2 linked regions of the Homo sapiens genome follow. The protein of the gene in region 1 interacts with the protein of each later gene in a pairwise test. Each region holds a gene or a part of one and is shown in the gene's direction. Other genes may lie near its edges.

Evidence for each region.
Region 2: the proteins of HTR2B (region 1) and SLC37A1 interact in a two-hybrid assay, tested with the Homo sapiens proteins (one large-scale study listed by BioGRID and IntAct).

What each region holds. Positions count from the first base shown.
Region 1 is NC_000002.12:231,114,558-231,118,644, reverse strand, and holds part of HTR2B (5-hydroxytryptamine receptor 2B), read left to right. Parts: intron 1-4,087. UniProt on the Homo sapiens protein: G-protein coupled receptor for 5-hydroxytryptamine (serotonin). Also functions as a receptor for various ergot alkaloid derivatives and psychoactive substances.
Region 2 is NC_000021.9:42,512,091-42,516,880, forward strand, and holds the start of SLC37A1 (glucose-6-phosphate exchanger SLC37A1), read left to right. Parts: upstream 1-1,761; 5' UTR 1,762-2,627; intron 2,628-2,779; exon of another isoform or gene 2,780-2,845; intron 2,846-4,790. UniProt on the Homo sapiens protein: Inorganic phosphate and glucose-6-phosphate antiporter. May transport cytoplasmic glucose-6-phosphate into the lumen of the endoplasmic reticulum and translocate inorganic phosphate into the opposite direction. Independent of a lumenal glucose-6-phosphatase.

The sequences.
Region 1 (4,087 bases):
TTTCTAGTAAAACTCCTCAGGTTTTTGTACTAATTCAAAAGAAAGCAAAAACAAACAAAAAAATACCCAAACCAACAAAAAACCCAGGCATGCAATGCATACAGGTTATTTTCCTGTACCGTATATAAAATAAACAGCAGTTAAAATTCAACGTTAGTAAAAAACATACTTTTATGACAAATTCAATTGAAAGTTAAACAGAGTTAACTGTTCTCAGCCCATCCTCCCTCACCCCCGGAAAGTACAGCTTAAAGTTTTAAGCTGAATCAGATGCATGCACTTTTGCTACAGCAGGTAGAAAGACAAACACTCTTATTTCATACTGATGATTTGGCTTGTTTCTATGTAGGAGTGTTTTCATGGTTGAGTTAGTTGGCTAGTTTCTGTTAAACAATAGTAATAAGCACTAACATTTATTGAGTGTTTTCTTTATGCCAGGAACTGTTCTAAACACTTCACATGTATTTAATCATCATCCATATAAACTCTATTAAAGAAATCCTATAAAACAGGTACTATTATCCCCACTTTACAGAGGACAGAGAAGCAGAGGGATAAGTAATCTGTTCAAGATTACAAAGTAAGTGGCAGAGACATGATTTAAACCCAGGAGGACTGATTCTAGAATTCACACTCTTAACCTTTATTATTCCGCTTTCTCAAATGTCAATGAGAAATCTGACCAGCCAAAACTGTCATATTTGGCATACAGAACCAACATTTATACCTTAAATAACCCCATGTAACTGTTCAGAGGATCACAGAATTTTTTCCCCCCTAGGGACAAGTTAGAACTCAGTATTCTTTTCAGTTAAAGTTATATTTCATATTAAGTGGAAAAGAATACTTGTGCGTCAACCTATACTTGTACAAATCCTTCAGATGACTGCAAGATCTCTTTTCTGTGGAAGGTATTAGACCTAGGCCCATACCTATGAAGTTGTTGAACCTTGTCTGGGAGACAAATAAAAATTTATATAACTGAATGACAACTCCTACCATCCCTCATGCATGGCAGAATTTAAAGCAGTCTTCATTTTAAACAATAAAATATTTGTGCTACTGATATTCTTTAGATAATTAAACAATTGTCTATAAGACAAGACCCATCTAGGACTTGTTTTGTTGCTTTAATATTCAGTCTGTAATTATTTCAGGCATTGACAGAAATGCTATTATTCTTTCTTAATTTTAATGAAAGAGTCTAATTTAGAGCCCCAGAATAACAGTAATTTAGTTGAAGAACCTAGTAACTTGTTTCCCTCAGACTGACCCTTAGATACACATTTCTTTCTTTCCATTTAAGTATGTAACTGTTTCACTTCATTATTTCAAATTTTCAATGTCTTAAGTCTTTGTGGAAGTATATTGGACAGAATACATTATAACAAATAATGTAATTAGAAATTCTTAAAACCAAAACTCCTAAAATAAACGTTTTGAAATAAAGTATTTCACCATACCAACTTAACCTTTAATTTAGTTATTCTAAACAGAAATAAACTTTTCTGACTTTGAGCTAAATTAATACTAACTAAAAAATGATTTTAGAATGAAAGTCTCTAGACTAGGAAAAGCCCCTTTATAAAACAAGTGTGTCTAGAACTGTTTTTAATTTCTATAAATTCTTAGATTACCCAAATATATTAGGCATTTAAAAAAGCCTCTTTTTCTTTTTTGTGTTGTATATAAGGTTTCTATTAATTTAATGCAGTTATCTTTTTCTTTTATATTAGTTTCATTAAAACTATCCACCAGTGTTTCACGAAACTTGAAATGAGAAAGGCTTGGAATTGTAAAGATTCATCTCTCTTATAAATTTCAGTCTCATTCTTTCTTAAAGAAAATTCTGTATCACATCTCAATATTTCTGTTAACAATAAAGCACTAACTGTAATAAGAAAATTCTAGTGAATTTTAAGTGGGAATGAGTTTATAAATTCTGTTTAAAGTGAGGCTAACAGGGCTTCATAGGGTTACTTAAATCAGCACTAAAAAACTTTCCTTCTTAGCCCACAATTAGGAGTATGTGGATCAGATGGTCAAATTCCAAAGACACGTACTTTTTATATGAATTTTCTTATGGCTTCCTGCTTATGGCAACTAGATTTATGACTAGAATTTTCCAAACCTTAATCTTCAGAAGTATAATCCATAACTAGAATAGCTAAATAGACAGGTTTAAATAGTTGGCAAACTATTTTAAAAGATGTTACAGAGAGAGTAAGGACTTCAAGGAAGGAAATCTAAGATATAACACAATAATTACCTGCCTTTTAAATCCTTAACTGCAATCAATATCTCTGATTATAGCTCTAGACGAGTATTTTCCTACCACCCTACTTACAGTCCTAAATCTAGAACTTCAGCTCAAGATGTACCCTCATTTTTAGTAGTTTCCACTGCAAACTCTAAAATGATTCTTTTCACTATACTTAGACTGTTAGTTCGCTTTGAAGCTGCCTGTGTCCAAGGTCCTTTTCCACTAAATGACAAAAAATCTGAATGCTATGGCTAAGAGTGAGAAAATCCAATTGATTAGATTTTCTCCAAACACCAGTTTCTCTGACTTAATTTATTCTGAGAGGCCTCCCATTAGTTCCTTTCCATGAGACATTCCAAGTGCCTATAACCAACCCTACAACAGGAAACTTAGGTGCATCTTTTAAGACTCAGACACAAACCTTACCAGAAAGTCTTCCAAAGCACTGCTTCTCAAATGTTAATTTGCATACGAATCACCTGGAAACCTTATTTAACTGCAGAGTCTGATACAGTAGGTCTGAGATGAGACCCAAGAGCCTGCATATCTAAGTACCCAGGTGATGCCGATCCTCACTCTCCATCTTAAGAGCAAACTCTGAGTGGCAGTTCTAAATAACACTTTCAGATAACATTTACATTTCAATAAATAAATGCCTCCCCTCCTTACCTCTATATTCAGACTTAATTATACCTGAATTTACTCATCTGCAAGATCAATGGTAATCTCTAAGGTTCCTTCCAGCTCAATAAATCTAAAATTTACCACCTCTATCCCTTCCTACCCCCAATTCAACAAGCAGGCAAAGTTTATTTACAGTAATACACTGAAAAGTATGAATGACCCTTTCCACTTGATGCTTTAATCCCTTTTTAAGAAGCTGCTGAACATAGAACTAAGTCCCAATCATTTATTCTTTCTGAGTAAAAGTTTGTGCTGATTTTGTTATTTTGTTCCTAGGAAGAAATATTTTAATATTCTTATTCAGAATGCCACATACCAACTCTGGAAACAGAAGGCACCAAAAAGTAGATGTGTCAGCCTTGCTACCTTCTGGATACTTTGTCAAGTGCCCAGATATTTTTCACTGAAATCCTACCTGACTTTAAAAAAATCTCCTACTTGATGCTTGAAAATAACAGCCAAATCTATCTAAAAACTCTGCCCCTAAATTATGCTTTTTTTTTTTTTGGTCTGAGATTTTAATCTCTCTCCACCCCCAGGCTCCTTAAATTTTAAACAGTTAACAATAGAAGAGTCTCTTGTTGTTCTGTAATCCTGAGATGATTATTCTGGTTTTCCTTCAATTATGACAATCACTTTATACCTGTCAAAGTCAGATATACCTGCAATAGCCAGAAGAAAAGTAGATTACATTTTATCAGTGGACATATAACAATCAAATCCTAAAAGAGACTTAGATAATCTCACATGCATGACATCTGTTCTCTACAGGAGTTAAACTGGATTCTAATGGAAATATTCTAGGGGGAATTCTAAAATTTTAGTTGTTTTGAAACTGTAAACATGTTAAGTGGTGGGTGTAATATATAATGCATAATATATTAAATTCACATATGTATGAACATCTGTGTAAGTAAATTTATTAGAAAACTATGCAGAATATTCAATATCACATCCACACCTAAAATTTTTTTAAGGTTAATATTTCTAAAGTGCTTAAGACTATATGAAGTATGCAGTGTTTTATAAGAGTTTGTTAAATAAATTAAGTACTACGTCTAACCCTGAGATTTTCTTTTCAAATCAAAAGTCTGTACTAATTATTTTATCTCCAGTTTTTGGAGTGAATGATGAAATATA
Region 2 (4,790 bases), on another chromosome or scaffold:
AATGTGAGGTGATTGGATATACTAGCTTGACTGTGGCAATAATTTTACAATGTATTCATATATCAAAACATCACATCCTATACTACAAATTATGTAATTTTTATTTGTCAGTTATACGTCAGTACAACTGGGTGGGGGGGAGGGGGGGTGGGAAGAAGCTGTCTCCATATGAGGCCGAGGTGTCCTATATATCCTGAGCTTGTATTATCGCCTTTCAAGTGTAAAACCTGTAGGTGATGGGATGCCCGAAAGGTTTGAAAATCAGGAATGACAAGATCAGATTTTGCTTTAGGAGGGCAACTTGAGGCAGCTTAAAGAGTGGATTGCAGGAGGTAGAACTTGGAAGTGAGAACGCTGTTGCACAAGTGCAGTGAGAGAGGGGTAGCCTCGAGCCGAACCAATGGCAAGGGCCAGGGCTGGGGAGACCATTGGAGAGAGGGGTGGGAGCCACACTGGGCTATCACCGGGAATGGAGAGCTAGAAAAGAGAGGAGAAAGCACTGGCACAGGGGGCCTGCGGAGAGAAAGAAGGTCTGAAGAAAACCTGGCCAAAAGGAGAAGACTGGAGCCCTGGGCCATCCCGCTTGCGGAATGAGGGGCCGGCGGGCTTCCTGGGGCTGAACCCTGCGTGGCAAAGAAGTGGGCAGGTTTTCTTTCTGCCTGCAGAAGGCTTCTCAAATGCCTAACAAAGTGATGGATTTCACGCAGCCCAGCTCAGCAAAGAGAGACACAGACATCAGAGTGTTCTAGAAACAAAGCAGGGCCCCAGGGGGAAACTGCGAGGCCTAGCAGGGCAGGGGAGCCAAACACAGGGAAGAATGCCTTCTCCATTCTCCAGAGGGAAGCTCAACGTGCCTGGGGAAGGGTGCGAGGGGCACTGGCCTGTTGGGACATTTACAGCCAGGCCTCGGGTTGGTTTTATCCTTAAACATTGTTTTATCCGGGGGCAGGCTTTTTCCCCGGAAAATTTCCGCTCTGCCTCACTTTGCTCTTCCCCGAGGAGTGGGCTGGGAGCCCCCTCTGCTCTGAAGCCATCCTGGGGGTCCACTGTGGGTGTTCGGCAGTAGCTTCTAGGGGACTGGCCAGGCCCCTCCCTGGGGCTGCCTAAGGAGAAGAGTTGTTTCTGGGGTGACGTGGGAGCCTGTGTGCCAGGGCACTGGCCCGCAAGGGTAAGAACCCGGCGGGCTCCCGCAGCCTAACAGGGAGCTGCCTCTGTCACGTGCCTGCGAGGTGGGACACAAGTTGGCTTACAAGTTGGTTCGACATAGCCAAATCCGCGTGCCGCATTTCCACGCTATGGAGTGCTAGTCTTCATGATTGTGCCCCTTGACATGACACAATAGGAATAGAAGCCGGGAGGCCAAGCAAAGGCCCTCTTTGGGGGTGGGGGCGCGGCGGCATGTGACCCTCGCCGCCTGTGGGGAAGACCTGCCTTGAGGACAGAGCGCCAGGGGTGCAGAGGCCGCCTGGGACTGCCCGGAGGCCGGTGGGGAGCGCGCCAGCGAAAGCCCGTGCGCCCTCGGAGCCGGGGAAGGCGCGGGCCATGACCCGGGTTCGCCCGCAAAGGCCGGGCAGTGCCGCAAGGCGTGGGGGCGCCCCCGCCCGGTGGCCCCGGGGCTGGTGCGACCCTGGGCACGCCGGGGCCGGGGCCGGAGCCGGGGGTCGCGGCGGCCGGGGAGGGGGAGGAGCCGCGCGGCTCCGCCGGCGCCCCGCGGGCCAGGGAAAGTGAAAGGGCGGCGGGGCCTCCCGCGCGCCGCTCCAGGAAGTCGCGAGCAGGAAGCGCCCGCGGCGGCCGGGCCGGGCTGGGCTGCGGAGCGCGGGCCTCGGCGGCGCAGGTGAGGCGCGGGGCCGGGGCCGGACCGGGAGGCGGGGACCCCCCGCCCCCCCGCCCGCACCTGCGGGGCAGCCGGCGCTCAGGCGCCGCAGCCGCTCAGCACCTGCGGCGCCCTCAGGGAGCCGGGCGCGGGGCCCTGCGCACTCGGAGCTCGGCTCCTCTCCTTCCTTTTCTTTTTTTTCGGGGGGAGGTGGGGGCTGGTTTGGATGTTTTCCGAGAGCCGGGGACGGTCTCAAGCTATTTTCGCGGAGGGAAGTCTTTGAAATACGACATCTAGAAGAGTGGCCCTCGGCGACAATGCCGGGCGTTCCCGGACCGGGGCAACGCTGGGATTCCGGGGAAGTGGAGGCAGAGGGAGCGGGCACGGGGCCGGCAGCCGCTCCACGGAGTCCCCGGCAGGGGCGAGCTTAGCTGTCCAGCCGGGTCCCCTGCCCACCCCGGCCCGGGCCGCGGTGACAGCTGAGGGTCCAGAGAGCCGGCAGGAGGGGACCCTGCGCATTGTCTGCCGCGATGGGGACGTGGGCGTGCCCGCGGAATTCACCTCCTCCGGGGACCAGCCGCCCAGGGAGGAGCCGGCACAGAACGCTGGCTCGGAGCGCCGGCACCCTGGGCCTTTGCGTTGTTTGTCGGCTGAGCAGCTGGTTCCCGGAGCCCGTGGGCCTCCTGGCCAATGCGAGTGACAGCGACCTTCTGGGTTTATAATAAAGGGCTTGACGCGCCGGAAAGTCCCCTCGCCGCTGGCCACCAGCCTTCCAGCCCTTACGGCCCACGCCGTAATCCTGGTGACCGAGAAGGTACGTTCAGTCTAAGGATTTGCATTTGAACGAAGGATACTGGCCAAGCCCCTTACCACCCCCACTCCCCGCTAACACCCCAGCCCGCGGCCCCAGGTTTGAATTTCCAAAGGAGGAATTGCTAAAGCCTGCCCTTTCCGGGTCTCCCTTAGCTCTTTGCCTGGAAGGTGCCTGCCTGCCTGCCTGCCGGCCCTTGAACTTAAATCGTCTGAAGTTGTGTAAGTGGATAAATATTTTAGACTTCCCCCGTTGTTTTTTTATTAATCCCCTTTGAGAGCAAGCTTGAAAACACCTGGCCCCAGACCTGTGATTCACCAAGTCATTTTGGACCTGCATTTACACGTTCTGTTTCATGCAGCCCACCTGTGATGTTCTCTTTGTTGGGGGTTGGAGGCAGGTAAGGGAGGTGGTGCAAATGGAATTCAGGTTCCTTGTACTTCAGCCAAGGGGAAAGAGATAGTGACCATTTTCATTCATCTTTAATATGGAAAGCGCCTTTAAAAGCAAAAAGCCATAGAAAGAGCACACTCTGGACAGGAAGTTGTATTCTATCTCGTAATTTAAAAAAAAGAAAAGAAAAAATGCATGAAAACTTTTGGAGGAGAATTGCATTTCTCACCCATCTTTGCCTGTAAAGTGAGACCCAGTTAAAAAAAAATGTCATAAAGTAGATTATTTAAAATATCTGTGGGGCCGCTTTGATTATGTGTAATGCCACCTCAGCCCTAAAAAGACTGAGGAACCTTACTCCTGCTATTGCTCACTTCCTATCCCCATTATTTGAGTCTCTGCAGATTACTTGGAACCTTCTAGGCAGCGCAGATCACATGTGGGTGGGTCTGGGAGTGGAGCTTGTGAATGTTTCTTTCCTCAGCTTATTCTGTTTTACAGTTGCCTAGGGTGGGTTTTTTGAAGAAATAGGTATAAAACCATGTGTCTTTCAGAGTCTGTTTGTTTTTTTAACTTTTAGTTTCAGGGGTACATGTGCAGGTTTTACAGGTTGTAATAAAGATGCTCTAATGGGCTGTTTCCTAAGTTACTATCTTTTTATATTTTTTTAAGACAGGGTCTCGCTCTGTCGCCCAGGCTGGAGTGTAGTGGTGCAATCTCAGCTCACTGCAACCTCCGCTTCCCAGGTTCAAGTGATTTTCATGCCTCAGCCACCCGAGTAGCTGGAATTACAGGTGTGCACCACCACGCCCAGCTCTTTTGTGTATTTTTGGTAGAGATGGGATTTTGCCATATTGGCCATGCTGGTCTCGAACTCCTGGCCTCAAGTGATCTGCCTGCCTCTGCCTCCCAAAGTGCTGGGATTGCAGGCATGAGCCACCATGCCTGGCCTAAGTTGCTGTGTTTGACAGTGCAATGAAACTGGACATTCTGCCGCTTTTCCTCCCTGGAATGGTAAGTTCCAGGGGGGCCTGTAGAGAGTGACTTTTTAAAAAAGTATCTCTTCTTTTTATGTACTTGGGCAGTGTGCCAAAAACTGGGTTTAAACCAAGTGATTTGCTCCCATTCTGCTGCCCTTTCTCTGCAGGGGATGGGCAGGAAGAAGAGTGGCTGGAGGGAGGAGGTGGCTCAGAGAAACAGGACAAACTGGAATCTGCCCCACTTATCCAGCTGACCCAGGCGAGCCGCCTAGCCTCATTTTTCTCCCTTGTGAAAAGAACGCCCTGCCTCTTCAGGGTGGTCACGGGGCTCAAATGAGAGCATGTCAGTCATGGTTCGTGCTTCCAGAGGTCTTGACCCACTCAAAATGAAGTGGTCTTTAGTGGTGCTGCACAGGCTAGGGAGGAAGGGCCTCATTAGTTGAGCTCTTAACATCCCAAATGTAAAATCACTGTCTTTGCACATCTTAACTGCACTCACTATGAGAATTTATAGCACTTTTCTTTCACCCATTTTACAGGGAAAAGAATCCATCATTGTTTTAAAAAGAAATCAAAGAGGTTTTTTTTCCCTTCTTGATTTGTCAGTGCCTTCTGGGCCTTTGATGTTGTTGTCACAGGTTTTATCAGAGTTGGAGGTTTTTGATTTATTTAGTAGATGGCAATGGAATGTTTCCAGACACGCTGGACATGGAGAAGCAGCACTTGAGAGGAAGACGTTTGCTTCTGACCATCCGTTTCCAGACACTGTTGAACCAAATTCTTTACTCTGAAG